2 linked regions of the Homo sapiens genome follow. The protein of the gene in region 1 interacts with the protein of each later gene in a pairwise test. Each region holds a gene or a part of one and is shown in the gene's direction. Other genes may lie near its edges.

Region 1 (2,793 bases):
CTCTAAGGTCCCTTTCACCTCCCACAGTACGTGTGTCAGCTGCAGTTCGTCAAGATAAATGAGCAGGAGACAACTTCGTGTAAAAAGTGTGTGAACCTAGGACAGGACTTTTCGACCCTTATGAAGAAAGAAAGGAAAGAATATTGCAGCTAGATGTGTTGGGTCCGGACTGAGGTCAGAGTTGCACAGCTTTGGACAGATAGCCTGGACACAGGAAACCATGTTCTCTCAATTTTAAACAAAAATGCAATTATGTATTCCCTCCCCTATCCCCCCACCACCCCCCATACACACATTAAAATTCTTAACCATGGGTCAGCTTATATCGACCTTTTGGGTAAAAGACATTATTCCTTTGAAACTTCAGAAGCACGAGTTTGTTTTCTGAAAAACACATGCCATTGCATACCTTTTAACTTGACATATGACTGAAACTTTTGTCTTAACAATCCATTTTCTACAAAGACTGCCCTTATATTTATTAAAGATGACAAAACCAAAACCACTTCTTCTTTCATACATTTTCTGCTTTCATGTTCTGTCATTCTGAGATCTTTTTTTCTTTCCCTCTCTCTGTCTTCTTTTCCCCCAGCTGTCGGCAGCATCCAGCCCCTCCAGTCACAGTCCTCACAGAGCTTCAGGAAAGGACCCCTTTGCAGAGCTCTCTTTGGAGGATTTCTTATAAATCACTTTAGGTATTGCTACTTGTTTTGGGAGATGGGGACTTAAATACTTAAAAACAATTACCAAACATTAAACACAATTCACGCTTCTCTTTCATTTCTTTAAAGGACTCTAGGCTCCCTCTCCTCCTCCTCCTCTTCCTCTATTCTTTAGGTGCAGAATGAAAAGATAGGACATAAGGAAAAACAACTTTTGGAAAATATCTGTAACATAATTATTTAAAGTAATCTCATCCACTGCTCACAGTAAATGGATGAGATCGGATAAAGTTTGCTTTTTAATTAAGGGCAAGTGAATACTTAAGCCCTTTCGATTAGAAGGATTCTGCATATGATCCACACTGCCTCTGTTTGCTGGAAGACAGTGTAATTTGTTCTTCTTGATGCTCTAGCCCCCAGTTTAGATATACCTTCTAGATCTTTGGGAGTTTATAGTCTTCTGATTTGGCAAGTTTATTAGCACATCTACTTCAGTAATCTTTGGATGGGCAGTTTAAGGGAAATTGTGAGTGAAATATCTTTGAATGAACAGTAGTACCCTATTGAAAAATATTTTTATGGCTCTTTCAGGTTCTTATTTATGTTAATAAAAAGACTTAGTATAATATTACTGTTCCCTTTATTGTCTCTAATTGTATATCATTTGGAAATAATATTTCAAATTTTGCTTCCCAAATGAGATTTTGCTTGTGGTATTTGTGCTTATGGAGAGATTTTTCTGAACTTGTCATGAAAAAATAGGTCATTGATCTTCTTTCTTTTCCTCCTCCACATGCTATTCCTCTATTTTTAGCAGTTAAGTATTTGGCCTGGATGTGGTTGCTTATGCCTGTAATCCCAGCACCCTGGGAGGCTGATGCGGGAGGATCACTTGGGGCTAGTAGTTCAAGATCAGCCTGGGCAATACGGTGAGACCCTAGTCTCTACCCCCACCCAAAAATTACCCAGGTGTGGTGGCGACTGTCTGCAGTCCTAGCTATTCAGGAGGCTGAGGCAGGAGGGTTGCTTGAGCCCAGGAGTTCCAATGAGCTTTTTTTTTTTTTTTTTTTTTTTGAGATGGAGTTTCGCTCTTGTCTCCCAGGCTGGAGTGCAGTGGCACGATCTCAGCTCACTGCAACCTCCACCTCCTGGGTTCAAGCCATTCTCCTGCCTCAGCCTCCCGAGTAGCTAGGATTACAGGCGCCCGCCACCACGCCTGGCTAATTTTTGTATTTTTAGTAGAGACGGGGTTTCACCATATTGGCCAGGCCAGTCTCGAACTCTCGAACTCACCTCAGGTGATCTGCCCACCTCAGCCTCCCAGAGTGCTGGGATTACAGGTGTGAGCTATGGTGCCCAGCCATTGAGCTTTGATCATGCCACTGCAATCCAGCCTAGACAGCAGAGCAAGACTCTGTCTCAAAAACAACAACAAAAAACATTATTTGGAAGTCCCTATATGTGTCAAATATTGAGCTTTCTGGCACATAAGTTGATAATACTGACTTTGTTTTATAAACAGGGTTTGTGATAAGCATGTTGTGAACACTTCTGGGCCAGTTAAATGGTAAAGACCACAAAGCATTTTTATTTATGAGAAGACATCCTACAATACAATGAATTAACATACCCACTTTTTTTTTCCAGATACAGTTTATGTAACTTGATGGAAGAAAATGGAATTACTCCAAAAAGACAAGTGCTCAAGCAGCAAAATCCTTACTTCCAGCAAAATCCAAACTGCTGTCTCTTAAATCTCTTAAACTCTCTTCTTCCATTAGAATGCTACAAGTAACTCAGTGAAGGCCCATGAAGGAAATTGGGACTAGTTTATAGGAGAACGTATCAATACAGTTTATAAAGCCAAGAATTGCTATGATTTAAGACTAAGATCTGTCTTTTTGGTGACTAACCCTTCAATTCTTTCAACTCCTGTTAATACCCATAATCAGTAACCTATCAAGAAAAGCCCTTATTTGGAAAGTGTGAAATTTGTATTTGGAAAAGCTGCCTGGAGAGAAGAACTGTGTCCTTTACTGTATTTCAACAGGACTCTTTTGGGGGATCAAAATTAAAATTCCTAATTATGCATTATCTTTCTTTTCTCCAGTCCTCACAAATACAGAAACAA
Region 2 (3,500 bases), on another chromosome or scaffold:
AGATGTAATTTTCAGGAGTTAACCACAGCAAGATGATTGTTGAAGCCTGGGATTGGTAAGAAAGTATGTAGGTAAGAACAAAATATCTAAGAGAAGCTTGGGGAGATGCCTTTCTTTAAGCAGTGGAGTATCAAGGAAACCAAAAGAGTAAAATGCAAAGATACAGTGCTCCTGGGGATGAGTGGGGGATGTATAGTGTTATGATGTTATAAATGGGAGGAAGGCTGGGCGCGGTGGCTCACGCCTGTAATCCCAGCACTTTGGGAGGCTGAGGTGGGCGGATCACAAGGCCAGGAGCTCGAAACCAGCCTGACCAACATGGTGAAACCCCACCTCTACTAAAAATACAAAAAGTAGCTGGGCATGGTGGGGCATGCCTGTAATCCTAGCTGCTCAGGAGGCTGAGGCAGGAGAATTGCTTGAACCCAGGAGGCGGAGGGTTGCAGTGAGCCAAGATCGCACCACTGCACTCCAGACTGGGCGACAGAGCGAGACTCCATGTCAAAAAACAATAATAATAAAATTAAAATAAAATAAAATAAAATAGGGAGAAAAATCTTAGAATACAACTTCTGTAAATATGACTGCTGCAAGCTTTGTACATAGAATGCAGGAAAGTGAGATCCACATTTTATTTATCTTCACATTCCCTACCCTATTACAGTATTACTATAGTACAGTATATGGCAAGAAGAAATTATTTCCTAAATGAAGGAATGAATAGGACTTTGGCATCATCATAAATATATTGGTCTTCGGTCAAAATTTCCACGAAGTCCTGACACTTGTAATTTTTGTGTCTGTCATCACACCCATTTCCATCTCTCCCAAACCAATGTGGAAAGAAAGGAACAAAGCTTGTTCTTATTAGTGTCTTGAGTCTTTCCAGGACAGAAACAACCTGATCAAAAATAGAGTAGGAAAAGAGGATAGAACAGGAGGCTACTGAATTATCAGTGAGGGGGAAAATGCTATAGCAAGAATTGAAAATGTGGACTAATCTGATAGTTTTCTGACCCAACTTTATCATTATCTGGAATTATTTTCTAGACACTACTAGTGTCATTGGCACATATATTACTCTTTCTCTCTCAGAGCATTTCCTAATTTAGAAAGAAAAACTGACTACAGATAAAACTGGATCAATTCTTGTTCTGTGAATCCAGGCTCAATACAATTTAATGTCTTTTAATTGCTGCCCTATTTTGTATTAATTTCATGTTACATTTAATTTCAACAATGATTACTGGAATTTCGTAGAACAAGAGGAAAAGTTAGGCTTGATTTTTGACACAATTTTAAAACCTACAACATTTTGACATTTATTGGGACATCCCACCTTATTTTAAAGTTTTATCACTGTGACAGCAGGCCTATTCCAGTAAGCAGAAGCTAGCATATAAATATTATTTATGGGTTTTAATGGCCATATAACTTCTAACACTATTTTTAAAAACCAGTTTTGTACATTTTGTGTTATAATGGTTATGAAGATTAAAAATAAAAATAATTAGCTGGGCGCTATGGCTCACGCCTGTAATCCCAGCACTTTGGGAGGCGAAGGTGGGCAGATGACCTGAGGACAGGAGATCGAGACCAGTGGCCAATATGGTGAAATCCTCTCTTTACTAAAAAATACAAAAAATTAGCCAGGCATGGTGGTGCATACCTGTAATCCCAGCTACTTGGTAGGCTGATGCAGGAGACTCACTTGAACCTGGGAGGCAGAGGTTGCAGTGAACTGAGTTCGTGCCAGTGCACTCCAGCCTGGGTGACAGAACGAGACTGTCTCAAAATAAATAAATAAATAAATAAATAAATAAATAAATAAATAAATAAATAGCTGCACATATTTATACCTAAAATTAAAATCTGAAAGAAAAAAAGCAGATATTACATTTAAAAATGCAGTATGAATAAGTTTGTATTTCTAATTTTACTCACAAATTATGATTTCTGGTAAGATTGCTTTTTATGGTTAAGACTACTAAGTGGTTTACCTAAGATACATCTAAAGTAATTAAGCAACTAAGCCAGATTGCATCCAGATATGAAAATATACACTATAATATATTCCAATGACCTCTCAAGTATAAAATCATTCAAATGAAGCATACTGGAATATGGCAGCCCAAACCACCCAGACAAAAGGAGTATATAAACTTGGTCTGTGGAGCAGAATGTCCATTGGTAATAACAGAAAAACCTACGGTTATGGGAAAACAGGATACAAAAAAAAAGATCCTATTGCCAGCAAATTACTTGAACAGTTTTGAAAGCAAATTTCAATCCTTTCCATTTATCTGTTTCTTACAGCATTCCACCAATCATACATCTTTGCCATTGGTTTGTTTTCAGGATATCTATATTCACTGGGATAAACATTTATAATTTTAACATACAGATATACTAAAATATTATTTATAACCTACTTGCTTATACCCAATATTTATGAGATCCTATGTGTATAAATATATGGTATTTATAAATATCATATAGGTATAAATATATGTATAATAAATCACACATGTATTTATATGTATATTATATATTATACATAAGCTGCATATATTTATAAATATATGTATACATATGCATATATGTATATTATGTGTATGCATATGCATATATGTATGTGTATACAAATGCATATGTATTATATGTATACATACATGTATACATATTATATGTATATATTATGTGTGTACATATATGTATGTATATGTACACATATGCATATATGTATATACATATATAAATGCAGGTGCATGTATGTACATATGTATAAATATATGGTATTTCTACATATAGGATTTCATAAATATTGGGTATATAAATTATATATATATATATATATATATATATATATATATATGGCCTAACTACTGCCAGTGTTGGGTAGATTCTAATAAGAACAATAGCATGATTCTGTCTTCAGTGCATTTATAAACTTGTTGCCAAAACAAGTTCTATTCACATAGAACAGAAAATTTTAGACTGCAACAAAGTGCCAAAAGGTATGGTACAAATAACAAGTGCATAGGAAGAGTTCAATCTTGCCTCAAATAGTCAGGAAATGGTGACTAGAAAGATAAGTTATTATGCAGACTAAAGGTAAGGGGAATGGTCTCTTTAGAAATAATTTGCACCTTGAATGTTCTTTGCCCTATAAGTTATTTTCATTATTTTAGAAAACATTTTTCTCTTTTCAGCTTCGTGGTGGATCCTGAACAACTAGATGTTCCTAGACATTTTCTTTATGGTTCCAAGTGCAAAACAGGTGTTCTTATCTAAAACGTCAATTAGAAAATTATCTGCGGTTGTTAATCTACTGTATATTTTTGTTTGGTATATTTACTAAGTGCACTCTTTCAAAACTTATTCTATAACTTTATCAATTCATGTGAATTTTAGCTCAATTTTCAAAGTTCACTAATATTCTCAATATTTAATGCTAAATGCTTTGCTACATTGTAACTCACCTAAAACCTTTTAGTGAC

Evidence for each region. The genes of interacting proteins can lie anywhere in the genome.
Region 2: the proteins of PICALM (region 1) and NECAB1 interact in a two-hybrid assay, tested with the Homo sapiens proteins (one large-scale study listed by IntAct).

The regions. Positions count from the first base shown.
Region 1 is NC_000011.10:85,958,577-85,961,369, reverse strand, and holds part of PICALM (phosphatidylinositol-binding clathrin assembly protein), read left to right. Parts: intron 1-592; coding exon of another isoform or gene 593-685; exon of another isoform or gene 686-695; intron 696-2,309; coding exon 2,310-2,324; 3' UTR 2,325-2,793. UniProt on the Homo sapiens protein: Cytoplasmic adapter protein that plays a critical role in clathrin-mediated endocytosis which is important in processes such as internalization of cell receptors, synaptic transmission or removal of apoptotic cells.
Region 2 is NC_000008.11:90,952,275-90,955,774, forward strand, and holds part of NECAB1 (N-terminal EF-hand calcium-binding protein 1), read left to right. Parts: intron 1-1,669; exon of another isoform or gene 1,670-1,712; intron 1,713-3,212; coding exon 3,213-3,238; coding exon of another isoform or gene 3,239-3,294; 3' UTR 3,295-3,500.